Linked DNA regions of Homo sapiens. The main gene of each other region encodes a partner of the protein of the gene in region 2 in a complex. Each region holds a gene or a part of one and is shown on either strand. Other genes may lie near its edges. A codon is read from its position in the direction of its gene.

Evidence for each region. The genes of interacting proteins can lie anywhere in the genome.
Region 1: the proteins of NAA25 (region 2) and NAA20 are in contact, whole or in part, in a cryo-EM structure (PDB 7STX), measured with the Homo sapiens proteins. Residues at the interface, in NP_079229.2 of Homo sapiens: Ser226, Glu227, Ile228, Asn259, Asp261, Asp262, Trp263, Gln264, Arg318, Arg321, Leu325, Lys362, Pro363, Cys364, Thr367, Asp368, Val371, Leu457, Thr459, Glu460, Leu461, Ser504, Ala506, Leu510, Leu532, Asp533, Lys535, His536, Ile537, Gln538; in NP_057184.1 of Homo sapiens: Thr2 (codon at 4,161), Thr3 (codon at 4,164), Leu4 (codon at 4,167), Arg5 (codon at 4,170), Thr8 (codon at 4,179), Cys9 (codon at 4,182), Asp10 (codon at 4,185), Leu12 (codon at 4,191), Phe13 (codon at 4,194), Phe15 (codon at 4,200), Asn16 (codon at 4,203), Asn19, Leu20, Pro22, Leu23, Thr26, Tyr27, Gly28, Ile29, Pro30, Leu33, Gln34, Leu36, Ala37, His38, Pro40, Glu41, Pro49, Glu52, Met54.

What each region holds. Positions count from the first base shown.
Region 1 is NC_000020.11:20,013,240-20,020,379, forward strand, and holds the start of NAA20 (N-alpha-acetyltransferase 20), read left to right. Parts: upstream 1-4,122; 5' UTR 4,123-4,157; coding exon 4,158-4,210; intron 4,211-4,555; exon of another isoform or gene 4,556-4,785; coding exon of another isoform or gene 4,786-4,802; intron 4,803-7,140. UniProt on the Homo sapiens protein: Catalytic subunit of the NatB complex which catalyzes acetylation of the N-terminal methionine residues of peptides beginning with Met-Asp, Met-Glu, Met-Asn and Met-Gln. Proteins with cell cycle functions are overrepresented in the pool of NatB substrates.
Region 2 is NC_000012.12:112,098,774-112,105,792, reverse strand, and holds part of NAA25 (N-alpha-acetyltransferase 25, NatB auxiliary subunit), read left to right. Parts: intron 1-7,019. UniProt on the Homo sapiens protein: Non-catalytic subunit of the NatB complex which catalyzes acetylation of the N-terminal methionine residues of peptides beginning with Met-Asp, Met-Glu, Met-Asn and Met-Gln. May play a role in normal cell-cycle progression.

The DNA of each region.
Region 1 (7,140 bases), on a different chromosome or scaffold from region 2:
CTACTAAAAATGCAAAAAAAGTAGCCAGGCATAGTGGCGGGCACCTGTAATCCCAGCTACTAAGGAGGCTGAGGCAGAGAATCGCTTGAACTCAGGAGGCGGAGGTTGCAGTGAGCTGGGATCACACCACTGCACTCCAGCCTGGGCGACAGAGCAAGACTCTGTCTCAAAAAAAAAAAAAGGCCTCGTGTGGTGGTGCACACCTATAGTTCCAGCTACTCAGGAGGCGGAGGCAGGAGAATCCCTTGAACCCAGGAGGCAGAGGTTCCACTGAGCTGAGATCTTGCCAGCGCTCCAGCCTGGGAGACAGAGCGAGACCCTGTCTCAAAAAAGCAAAAAAACAAAAAACAAAACAACACAAAAAAAGAGTAAATAGTGCCCTAAATTGAAATTTCTATTAAAAAATCTGATTTTGACCATTAATTATCCTCATTAGGAGATTGAAATTACATTTAATACATATATAAGATAATACTATACATATCTTAAACTTTACAGGAAACTTTTAGGAGCTTTTATTTTGTGCTGCTCAGCAATCTCTTTATTTTCATATTTATTTATTTATTTATTCTTTGTATTATTTTTTAATTTTTTGAGACAGAGTCTTGCTCTGTCACCCAGGCTAGAGTGCAGTGGTACAGTCTCGGCTCACTGCAACCTCTGCCTCCCGGGTTCAAGCGATTCTCCTGCCTCAGCCTGACAAGTAGCTGGGATTACAGGCGCCCGCCACCATGCCTGGCTAAATTTTTTTTGTATTTTTAGTAGAGATGGGATTTCACCATGTTGGCCAGGCTGGTCTCAAACTCCTGACCTTATGATCCACCCGCCTCGGCCTCCCAAAGCATTGGGATTACAGGTGTGAGCCACCGCGCCCAGCCTATTTATTTATTTATTTATTTATTGACATGGAGTCTCCCTCTGTCGCCCAGGCTGGAGTGCAGTGGTGCAATCTCAGCAAACTGCAACCTCTGCCTCCTGGGTTCAAGCGATTCTTCTGCCTCAGCCTTCCGAGTAGCTGAGATTACAGGTGCCCACCACCACGCCCGGCTAATTTTTGTATTTTTAGTAGAGATGGGGTTTCACCGTGTTGGCCAGGCTGGTCTCAAACTCCTGAACTCAGGTGAACCACCTGCCTCGGCCTCCCAAAGTGCTGGGATTACAGGCGTGACTCACCGCGCCTGGCACTCTTTCATTTTCATTTGATTTGTTTTTCTTCTGTTAAATTCAAGAAAAAAGTCAAGTACAGTAATACCTTATACTTCATAATCTATTAACATATATAATTAGAATCCCTTTTAAGTAAAAGTCTCTTTCTCACTCCCCTTAATCTACATAGAGAGATGACTGAAATTATCTGAGAGTTAACATGGTTTATTCCCAGGTGGCAAAATTTTCAATGATTTGTTGCTTTATTCTTTGTACATTTCCACAAGTCTTTGATTTCTTAATAATGTGCATATATCCTTTTTATTAAAAAGTCTTTAAGAATGTAAATAGCCCTAAAAGGTATTTTTAAAACCCATAAAACAAGTGTGTCAACATGTAGACTTTTCTGGTTGAAGCAAGACAATAAGAGGAAAGGGAGGCGGCTTCCAAAGCCCCACCCATCTCCTCTAAGCTGCTCATCGGGGACTATGAGCAAACATCACCCCTCCAGAGCCATTTGTGCTAAGGTCTATGATTGAGGGCTGTGCCTCTCCTAACTCTACATCTCCAGATTCTGATCCTTCAAAATGCAAGATACTTAATTTCATTATTTTTCTTAACAAACACTTATATGGCACTTAAAATGTGGCAAGCACTGTTATAACTGCTTTACAAATATTAACTCATGTAATCTTCATAATAATCCAATGAAGTAGGTGCTATGATTATGCACCTTTTACAGAAACTGAGGCAAAGAGAGGTGAAATACCTTTGTTGAGAATGTGAATACCCTCTTTGTAAACTACCAAGGATGACATTATCTTCTGGGTAACCTGTGTGCCACTTTTTCACTCAGCTATTTAATCAATATTTGCTAGGCACTTACTGGCCACCCTTCGAGATGCTAATTCATAGGAGGCAATCAGCAATGGAAACTGATAACAGTTTAAAAATAAGTAGACAAACAGGAGAGAAGGGAGAACCAGCTGGTGAATATCCAGGATATTCTCTGTACTGCCCTGCACGTTCCCCTGACCCCATGTGTTGGAATGGCCACGTAGCTATAGGATATTTCTGATCTGTGCCTCAAAATCGGAATAATAATTCGTATCGGTGCTTGCAAACTGCTGGCCTACAGCATCCAGTTTCTGCAGGGTTCCAATGCTACCTTTGTGTTAAACCCACAGTGTTTTTTTCTAAAAATCAAAATCATGTTTATTCCACCATTACCTAGATACAAACATAAAGTAGCTATAAACTTCTAATGTTTATAATACCAATGAATCAGAGCCAAAAATATTATAAAAACCTTCACTACTTCATAAGGAACAAAATTCAAATCAACATTAGTTCATGTCACACACAAAAAATTATGAAACACTTTGAAATGGCCAGAAAAAGATTACTGTTTAGTACACGTTTCCAGGTTTTCTCTGCTTTTTATTGTCTTTGACAATACAAAATTTTACAAATTTGTAAGCTGAGGAAAATTGATAGTAATGAAAATTTTTCTTGTCCATAAAATACAAATGCATAGTGTTATACAGTGCCCAGGAGAGACAGTGATTACAGCTCTGTGGATATTGACCAGTTTAACACTCATGTGTAAATACATTTCAGCATTCCTGCTTGCTTTATGTATTTTATCTCTCTTTATCTTATCTTTTTGAGACAGGGTCTTGGTGTGTCACCCAGGCTGGAGTGCAGTGGTGCAATCATGTCTCAGAGCAACCTCTACCTCCCGGGCTCAAATGATCCTCCCACCTCAGCCTCCCAAGTAGCTGGGATTACAGGTGTGAGCCACTGTGTCTGGTCTGAATAAAGGAATTTTTAACTTTTAATTTTAACTACTTTAAATTTAAAAACTGATGTTTGGTTCAGCGATTTGAAAACAGTATATTTGGAACCGCTTGGATATGAGAATCTGCTTTTTAACCATACATTGATGAAATCTAAATAGAGAACAAGCATTTCCGATGACAGCTGCTCTCTCAGATTGAAATGCACTGCAAATGTAAAATACACACCGGATTTCAAAGTCTTTGCAAAAAAGAATGTAACATATCACATTCCTTTTTTTATTGATTGATTACATGTTGAGTATTGATTGGTTACATGTTGAAATGATATTTCGGGTATAATAAAGTGGGGTCAGGGAAAAATATTTTTCCCAAATAGGAAAAATAAATGGGTAAAATAAAGCGTACTATCAAAATCAATTTTACATTTCGTTTTGCTTTTATTTATTTATTATTTATTTTTGAGACCAAGTCTAGCTCTGTCGCCCAGGCTGGAGTGCAGTGGCGAGATCTCGGCTCACTGCAACCTCCGCCTCCTGGGTTCAAGCGATTCTCCTGCCTCAGCCTCCAAGTAGCTGGGATTAGAGGCGCGTGCCACCACGCCCAGCTAATTTTTATTTCTTTCCTTTTTTTTTTTTTTTTAGTAGAGAGGGGGTTTCGCCATGTTGGCCAGGTTGGTCTCGAACTGCTGAACTCAAGTGATCTGCCCGCCTTGGCCTCCCAGTGTTGGGATTACAGGCGTGAGCCACCGCGCCCGGCCTTCTTTTTGTTTTTAAACGTGGTATTGACATTTTAAGATGACATCTGCAACTCGCAACACTGGGACAAGGGATTCTGGGTCATAAATTCTCCCATTCCTCATTTACTCTGCAGCACCGGGTGGCTGCGAACTCCGCTCTTCTGCTTGGGTTTCCGCATCACCAGCAGCTTCTTTCCTTCCCAGGTGTCGCCGCCTGCTTTCTGCAGCCGCTGCCTGGGAGGGGTTCCGAGGTTCTGGGCAGCCACAGCCCCGGAGGCCTTACAGGAGCGACCTGGCAATTCCCGCCGCCGGCCGCCAGAGGAAGCTGCTTTGCTGCTGTCGTTGCCCAGCAACTCGTAGCCCGGAAGCAGTACCCCGTCTCGCTCGGTTCCGCGGCGGCCACGCTCCGGGAGACTTCCGGCAGGGCGGGCGCGGGGTCTTGGCGAACGGTCTTCGGAAGCGGCGGCGGCGCGATGACCACGCTACGGGCCTTTACCTGCGACGACCTGTTCCGCTTCAACAACATGTGAGTGACACGCGCCTAGGGCCAGCCGCTCTTGGCCGGGCCTCGCTTCCCGGCCCCGCCAGCTCCGGCCCCAGCCGCGCCTTCCCGGCCGGACCCCAAGCCCGGACGGGGACCCGCGAGAACCACCCCCCGCCGGCCAACGTGGGCGCCTCCCTGGGGCCACAGGGTCCAGGGAGAGGTGGGCCTGGAGTCGACGCACGCCGGCCTTGGCGACCTTGGCCGAGGTGCTCAAACTTTGTCTCTGGACCCTGCGAGCTGGCAGGTTCTGGGGCAGCGCTCGGGCCTCCGCTCGTGGTCGCTGTCAGGAGGCGCTGGGGTGATGGGGCGAGCTGGAGACGCGGCCTGGAGCCCACGACCTGGGCTTCTCGCCCTGCCCTACTGCTTGCTGGTTCGTGGCCGGGCCGCGCCTCTTCTGGGCAGAGGGCACCGCCGACGGCCAGGCCGCAGAGGGGGCTTGCGAGGATCGGAAGCTGGTCAGCAGCTGTTGGGATGTGTACATCGTGAAGCCCACCTGGTGGCCGTGGTTAAATTGTATCCAAATGAAATGACACTGATCACTGCGTCCCCTGCAGCAGATGCTGTCTCAGTCATGGTTAGTGTTTGCAAGTTTAGTTACTGTAGCTGCGCACCCCGGTGTACACACCTTTCCTCTGTGAGGAGTCACGGCAGATCTTAGGGGAGGCTCGCTGTGCCCAGAGCCCTGGATGCAGTTTCTTTGGATTCGAGTTAAGGCCAGACCTCTGATTTGCAGGTACCAATTTTTTTTTTTTAAGAAAACATTTTATTATGAAGATTCCCACACATTTAGAAAAGTTGGAGGAATTTCACCATGTGCTTTTATAGACACTTTTCCTGGATTCTGCAGTTAACATTTTGCTACGCTGGTATCTCTCCTTCCTTCCCATCTATCAGTCCTGGATCCACTTTAAAAAAACAACAGGGCGGTATGTGAAAACTAAGGACAAAGTGGTTCCGATTCAAGTGTCAGGAAGATGGAAAGAACTATGGGATAAGATGGCTGGGAACATTTCAAAGAGGGGGTGAGCCTTGAAGATGGATAACACATTGGTAAGTGAGGAAGACGGAAGTTCCGGAGAAGGAGCGGGGCATGAAAATGGGGAAACTTGAAGTGCGGTCAGACAACTGGGATCAGTGCGAATCTAGTGGCTGGTTTCTGCCACTGAGCAGTCAGGAAGAAATGGGTGAAACAGGAGGGGTTTAGACTTGATCCTGTGGAAAGAATTTTCTGTTGGGCCAGTCTGGTAGCTACGGTGACTTGTGTTGAACTCACTGTTCCCTGCATTGTTCTGAGTGCCCACGTAATAATCCAGTTAATCCTCACGATTCTTTGAGGTGCTGTCACCCCCATTTTGTGTATGAGTAAACCAAGGCATGGCAAGCACAAGTGAATTGGCCCAGGTGAGAATGAGTAAAGCGAGGAACTTCATCCAAGGATATTGGCTCTGGAGCAGTGGTTCTGAAAGACTTGGTGCCTGTGGTCAGGGGACCATGTTAGAAACGCACATTCCGTTTGCGATCCACTGCTCTGGAGTGGGTCTTAACCCACCTGGAGCCTCTGGAGAGGCTCACCCTCTCTTTAAAGTGTTCCCAGCCATCTCATCCCATAGTCCTTTCTATCCTCCTGACCCTTGAATCGGAACCACTTGGTTTTTCGTTTTCACTTACTGCCCTGTTGTTTTTAAAAGTGGATCTAGGATTGATAGGTGGGCAGAGAGAAATGATGAAGCCAGTGTAGCAAAGTGTTCACTGTAGAATCCAGGTGATGGATTCAAATTCTTAACCACTGAGCTCTGTGGGCTGTCATGTGATGACAGCAGGTAAACTGGGCAGGTAAGCCATTCAGGAGGCCTTGGCAGTGGCCCAGAGACGATGACTTGACAGAGGCTTCAGTTTGGGAGGTGCAGCATGGGAGGTGACAGGGTGCCTTGAAGCTTCAAGAAAAGGCAGAGCCTCATGGAGAATCAGTTTTAACTGAAGATCTAGGAAAGGACAACAGTTTTACATGGAAATGAATAGAAAGAAAATACACAGGAACACTTGCAAGAAAATATTAGATTTCAGAGAATCATGTGGCCTCTTCAGAAGGTGCCAGTAGGGGAACTCCACTTATTCCCCATTTTCTTTTATTTTTTGAGACAGGGTCTCGCTCTGTTGCCCAGACAGGAGTGCAGTGGCACAATCCTAGGTCGCTTTAGTCTCAAGCTCCCAGGCCCAGGCAATCCTCCTGCCTCAGCCTCCCGAGTAGTTGGGACTACAGGCACGTGCTGCCACACCCCACTAATTTTTAAATTTTTTTGTGGAGACAGGGTCTTGTTTTGTTACCCGGGCTGGTCTGGAACTCCCAGGCTCAAGTGATTCTCCCACCTAATCCTTCCAAAGTGCTGGAATTACAAGTGTGAGCCACCACACCTGGTTCCCATTTTTTTGTATTTACTTGCCTCTTTGATTAGGGCATTTTGGTAGAAAACTCTGAGAATGACTCAGATTAGATGATGCAGTTGGAATTGAAATAATCCATGGATGTAGAACACTGCAATTAATTTAACACATATTTTATTCTTGGAAAAATATTTGAGTGCCTACTGTGTGCCAGTTCTAGAGACACAGCAGTGAACAAGACATAAACAAAAAGGTGTCTTTATAGAATGTAGATTTTCCCCTCTAAACACCTTAATGTATCATAAAGTAGCTGTGACTTCATAGAACACCTGAAACAATTTTGGGGACCCCCTCAAATCCTGGCCCACACCTTGGGAATCACAGTGCGGGGAGTCATGTGGAACTTAGTGTTCAGTTACAAAGGAAAATAGAAGCAGGGAAGGAAAGCTGGAAGTGAGTGGGGATTCAGCTTTAGTTTGGGGGTTCAGGGAGACTGCCCTTGAAGAAAGACCTGGGGAAGTTAGGAATGA
Region 2 (7,019 bases):
TGGGATTTGAACATAGACATTCTCACTGAGAGCTCAGCTCTTCACCAAGTTCAGATTCAGTAGCATCACTGTCTTTGTACAACAGTATTTGTACTGCCAAGGTTTCAGGATTTATTTTACAATTGTGTTGGAAACCTTGCTTGGGGCCTCAGCTCTTGCTGGAATTCATTGAGGGTATATGTGGACAGGGCTATGTGGTGATAAATTGTGGTGGGTTGAAATTTTACTGGTGGTGTCTAGGGTTGGAATAGCTTTTCTGTGTGCATAGATTTGAAACATCTTCCCAGTGCATCTCACATTACTAATAAGTTTGGGTATTGCATTTTTCGTTTTTGAAAACCTCCACCCATGACCTTACTGGAACCCATACTTGATTATTTGGTCTCCTTTTGCTAAAATTATTCTCTTTTGCTACGTAGTTCCCAGCAGATTTTGTACTCTTGTGTGACTTGGTAAGCCCCAGTGCCTTCTTTCGTTATTTTTTTGAGACAGGATCTGGCTCTGTCACCCAGGCTGGAGTGTCTTGGCTCACTGTAACCTCCACTTCCCAGGCTCAAGTCATCCATCCACCTCAGCCTCCTGAGTACTGGGACTGCAGGCGGGCACCACCACGCCTGGCTAATTTTTGTATTTTTTGTAGAGACAGCATTTCACCATGTTGTTCAGGCTGGTCTCGAACTCCTGAGCTCAAGCAATCTGCCTGCCTTGGCCTCCCAAAGTGCTGGGGTTACAGGCGTGAGCCACTGCGCCCTGCCCATTATTATTATTATTTTTTTAAGAAGGAGTCTTGCTCTGTCACCCAGGCTGGAATGCAGTGGCGCGATCTTGGCTCACTGCAACCTCTGCCTCCTGGGTTCAAACAGTTCTCTGCCTCAGCCTCCTGAGTAGCTGGGTTACAGGCATGCACCACCATGCCCGGCTAATTTTTGTTTTTGTTTTTGTTTTGTTTTTTTTTTTGAGATGGAGTCTCACTCTGTCCTGCAGGCTGGGGTGCAGTGGCGTGATCTCCGCTCACTGCAAGCTCCACCTTCCGGGTTCACGCCATTCTCCTGCCTCAGCCTCCAGAGCAGCTGGGAATACAGGCGCCCGCCACCACGCCAGGTTAATTTTTTGTATTTTTAGTAGAGACAGGATTTCACCACATTGGCCAGGTTGGTCTTGAACTTCTGATCATGTGGTCCACTTGCCTCAGCCTCCCAAAGTGCTGGGATTACAGGCGTGAGCCACTGCACCTGGCCCCATTATTCTTAATTTTAAAACATTTTCAGTGGTTATGGATTAGGGAAGGGAAGGGATGGAGGGAGATAATAAATATTTGACTCTGTTTTGTTATGCAGCCTCCTCTACCCCATACTTTTATTTATTTATTTTTCTTTCTTTTTTTTCTTTTTTGTTTTTAATTTCACGCTCATATTTTTAGATAATTGGAAGTGGAATTGATGGTCAGGTATGGCACTTAATAAATTTGTATAGAATATGGGAATTGCTAGGTCAGCAAATTGCATAATAGAAATAGAGAAAGTTCAAAGTAGAAAAAATGTGTGCATAGTCTTTAGAATATACACACATACACAGGCATGAGATCCCTTGTTTTAATATGTCGTACTGACCTGCAGTCTTGGATTAGCCTGGATCAGGTGTAAGATATTTTCCAGTGTGTCTCCCGGGTGACAGTCACTTCTTTGCTGAGTTAGGACATTTCTCTTGGGTGCCTGGCTCAGGTAATTATTCCACTATAGTTCATAGTTTAGGAGTTCCTGACCCCAGGATGGTGTGTGATACTGGTCTGTGGCCTGTTAGGAAATGGGCCGCACAGTAGGAGGTGAGCAGCAGGGTGTTGTGGGGGAGAGCATTACTGCCTGAGCCCCGCCTCCTGTCAGATCAGCTCTTAGGAGTAGGAACACAAACCCTGTTGTGAACTATGCATGTGAGGAATCGAGGTTGGCGCTCCTTATGAGACTCTAACTAATGCCTGATATCTGAGGTGGAATAGTTTTATCCCGAAACCATCCCTCCCTGCCATCTGTGGAAAAATTGTCTTTCATGAAATCGGTCCCTAGTGCCAAAAAGGTTGGGGACCACTGCTCTAGTTCATAAATGAAAACTTGCAGGTCCTCAATCAAAAGTGGTATTTATTCTGACCTCCTCTTGGACAGTGTGGTAGCTTTGTGAGTCTGGTCCTATTTTGCCTCAGAAGTGACAGGGTACCTTGGTGAGTGAAGACTATCTTGCGTTTCTGTAGAAAAGTCACTTGGCACAACCTATTTTTTTCCATTCTGAAAATATGACCATTTAAAAAGCCCTGACTTACTAGAACTTCTCTCAATGAATCTAGAACTTCCATCACCATTGGATGGCTGAGACCACCTCTGCCATACCAAAACCTTGCTCATAACCAAAACAGTCCCTGTTGGTCTTTTGCCCTGGACCTGTGACATTCTGGACTATTTTTGTGTTCAGTTTTGGCCAAGTGTTAACAAGCATACAAAGCTGGGCACAGTGGTTTGGCTGGGTGAGGTGGCTCATGCTTGTAATCCCAGCACTTTGGGAGGCCGAGGTGGGTGGGTTGCTTGAGGCCAGGAGTTCGAGACTAGCCTGGCCAAAATGGCAAAACCCCATCTCTACTAAAAATACAAAAATTAGCCAGGTGTGGTGGCAGGCGCCTGTAACCCCAGCTACTCAGGAGGCTGAGGCAGAAGAATCACTTGAACCCGGGAGGCGGAGGCTGCAGTGAGCTGAGATTGTGCTACTGTACTCCAGCCTGGGGGACAGAGCGAGACTTCATCTCAAAAAAATAAAAAATAGGGCTGAGTGCAGTGGCTCACGCCTGTAATCCTAACACTTTGGGAAGCCGAGGCCGGCGGATCATGAGGTCAAGAGTTTGAGACGAGTCTCACCGACATAGTGAAACTCCGTCTCTACTAAAAATATACGAAAAATTAGCCGGGTGTGGTAGTGTGCATCTGTAATCCCAGCTATTCAGAAGGCTGAGGCAAGAGAATCGCGTGAACCCAGGAGGCGGAGGTTGCAGTGAGCCGAGATCGCGCTATTGCACTCCAGCCTGGGCTCCAGTGCGAGACTCCATTGCGGGGGGCGGGGGGGCAGCTAGTGTGATGGTGCATGCTTGAACCCAGGAACTTCAAGCTGCAGTGAGCTGAGATTGTGCCACTGTACTCCAGCCTGGGCAACAGAGCAAGATTCTATGTCAAAACAAATAAACAAAAAACTATTCTGCTGTCTTAGCTGAATAATTCAAACAAACAACAACAACAAAAAACCCTGACCTAGACTTTTAAACTGAAAATGAAGGTTTTAGTGCACAAAAATATTCTTAGATGAATACATAGATTAGAGGGTAGTTGTTGAAACATAGGGCAAGATGAAGAGATTAGTACATTTCTTTTTTTTTTTCTGTTTTTGGAGACAAGGTCTTGCTGTGTTGTCCAGGCTGCAGTGCAGTGATGTGAACATGGCTCACTGCAGCTTCGACCTCCTGAGCTCAAGTGATCCTCCCGCCTCAGCCTCTGGAGTAGCTGGCACTGCAGGCACATGCCACCATGCCTGGCTAGTTTTTTAAATTTTTATTTTATTTTATTTTTTTGAGATGGAGTTTCACTCTTGTCGCCCAGGCTGGAGTGCAATGGTGCGATCTCAGCTTGCTGCAACCTCCGCCTCCTGGGTGGATCACTTGAGTCCAGGAGTTTCAGACCAGCCTGGCCAACGTGGTGAAAACCCATCTCTACTAAAAATACAAAAAAATTAGCTGGGCATGGTGATGCACGCCTGTAATCCTAGCTACTCGGGAGGCTGAGGCAGGAGAATAGCTTGAACCCAGGAGGTGGAGGATGCAGTGAGCCGGGATTGCACCACTGTACTGCAGCCTGGGTGACAAAGCTAGACTCTGTCTCAAAAAAAAAAAAAAAAGTTGAAAAGATTTGGAAAAAATTTAATAGCTGGTAGCCATCACTAATCACTGGTTCTTTGAACTTCCTGTTGTGATCACTTTGTATTATCTTTTTTTTTTGATAGATTTTTTAAGATGCAGTCTCACTCTGTCACCTGGGCTGGAGTGCAATGGCGTGATCTCCACTCGCTGCAACCTCCGCCTCCTGGATTCAAGTGATTCTCCTGCCTCAGCCTCCCAAGTAGCTGGGATTACAAGCACCTGCCACCACACCTGGCTAATTTTTGTATTGTTAGTAGAGATGGGATTTCACCATGTTGGTCAGGCAGGTCTTGAACTCCTGACCTCAAGCAATCCACCTTCCTCGGCCTCCCAAACTGTTGGGATTACAGGCATGAGCCACCGCACCCGGCCTGTATTATCTTATATATATATCTTTCATTTTTCTAGCAGACTGCCCTTTTTTCCCCCATACAATTTGTTCATTTATGCATTCCTTCATTCAACATTTATTGAGGGCCTGATATGTGTTAGGCACAATATAGATGCAGGAAATGAGTACTAAACAGCACAGACATAGTTTCTGCTTTCAAGGAGCTTATCTCCTTGAAATGACAGTACACATCACCATTACAGTTATGTTAAGGGATTTGAAGGAATAGGACAGTTTGCCATGAGAGCATACAATAGGGGCATTTGGACTGTTGGGGTCAGGTCAAGAAAAGGTTTCCTGTGGAAATGATGTTTTACTTTGGACATGAAAAGAGAACCAGGGTTAGGCAAAGAGATGGGGAGAGGGTGGTGAAGACCCTGAGAAAAGGAGCTTGGTCCACTTGAGGATGTAAGCAAAGGCTTGTGCAGTTGGAATGAAGAAATGAGTGAGGAAGTGAGATGAGGCTGGGGTGGGCAGCGACTCAGCTTTGTAATCCATTTTAAGGATATTGAAATTTGTTTTAAAGACAGTGGAATCAGGCCGGGTGTGGTGGCTCACGCCTGTAATCCCAGCACTTTGGGAGGCCAAGGCAGGTGGATGACGAGGTCAGGAGATCGAGACTATCCTGGTAACACGGTGAAACCCCGTCTCCACTAAAAATACAAAAAATTCTCCGGGCGTGATGGCGGGCGCCTGTAGTCCCAGCTACTCCGGAGGCTGAGGTAGGAGAATGGCGTGAGCCCGGGAGGCGGAGCATGCAGCGAGCCAAGATCGAGCCACTGCACTCCAGCCTGGGCAACAGAGCAAGACTCCATCTCAAAAAAAAAAAAAAAAAAAAAAAGACAATGGAATCAATACCTGTGAAAAGAAAGAAAAGGACAGTGGATGACATTAAAAGGATTTAACCAGAGGAGTAGAGTGATAAGGTGTGCATGTAAAAAAGATAGCTCTGAATACTGTGTGGGAAATAAACCTTTAAACTAAAAGGGAAGCAAGGCCAGGTGTGGTGGCTCACGCCTGTAATCCCAGCACTTTGGGAGGCTGAGGCAGGAGGATCACGAGGTCAGGAGATCGAGACCATCCTGGCCAACATGGTGAAACCCTGTCTCTACTAAAATACAAAAAAATTAGCCAGGCCTGGTGGTACGAGCCTGTAGTCCCAGCTGCTCAGGAGGCTGAGGCAGGAGAATCACTTGAACCTGGGAGGCAGAGGTTGCAGTGAGCCGAGATCGTGCCACTGCACTCCAGCCTGGTGACAGAGCAAGACTCTGTCATAAATAAATAGGAGGCAAATGTAGAATGGGTCGGTCAGTTAGGAGGCATTATTCATTTTTAGGTTCATCCTTGTCCCTTGCAATCTTGCACATGGTAGGTATTTAACAAAGGCTTGCTGAGTGAAGGAATGTGTCTTCTGTAATTTGTATTCATGGTAAAAGCAAGGCTCCTATTCTCCAACTTTTAGAATTTTTAAGTAAAGGATATTGTGTTTAAAGATGGAGCTCTCTTCTATTTAGCGTTTTTATAAGTTGTGGCAATATCTTTAATAGTCTCTGAAATTCTTGTAGGAAGTGGAAACTGAGCATACTATTTCAGCTGCTAAGGAGACCATTCATGGCAGCTGCAAGAACATGCAGATGAAAAACTTTCCTTTTTATTTGCAAAATTGATACTTTTCCTACTGTCAGTATCCATCCCTCAGTAAGATTGGATGAACAAATCCCAGGACCTCTTCTCCAGGGCATGTGGACAGCAGGCCTGCATGTGTCCAGGCCTGCTGCTGCCTGCATCTCCAAGGACTAGTAGCTTCTTTGGGAAGTGTTACCTCAGGAGTGCAGCTTGTGCGTTCATTCAACAAATTTTGATAGTGTCTTGCCAATGATTTATCCCAGTTCTTCCCAAATTTCTATCGTTCTTTTACCTAATCTCATTATTTTAGCTGCATTATAGTATTATCTGTGCTATCAGTTAATATTTTTCTCCAAGGTGACTTTTAAAATTAAATTTATTTTATAATTATATTATTGCTATGAGTGGAAAACTTGTATCACTTGCTGTAGGAAAATAAAACTGTAAAAGTAAAGTACAATGAAAACTAAACAATGTTATTAACCAGATTCTGATACTTGTGAAACTTCAGGACCTATTCCTTCCTTCTGGAAAAAAAAAAAGGCCGAGTGCGACAGCTCATGCCTATAATCCCAGCACTTTGGGAGACCGAGGCAGACGGATCACGAGGTCAAGAGATTGAGACCATCCTGGCCAACATGGTGAAACCCCGTCTCTACTAAAAGTACAAAAAAAATTAGCTGGGTGTGGTGGTGCGCACCTGTAGTCCCAGCTACTCAGGAGGCTGAGGCAGGAGAATTGCTTTAATCTAGGAGGTGGAGGTTGCAGTGAATCGAGATCATGCCACTGCACTCCAGCCTGGCGACAGAGTGAGACTCTGTCTCCAAAAAAAAAAAAAGATACTAGCAATTTTTAGAGAAATAGTAGGCTAGCACCAAACTGACACTTTCTCCTTAATGTAAAGGAAGTATTAGAAAAGAGATTAGGGCCAGGCGTGGTGGCTCACGCCTGTAATCTTAGCACAATCCCAGTTGAACCTTGGAGGCGGAGGTTGCAGTGAGCTGGGATCGCGCAACTGCACTCTAGCCTGGGCAACAGAGCGAGTCTCAAAAAAAA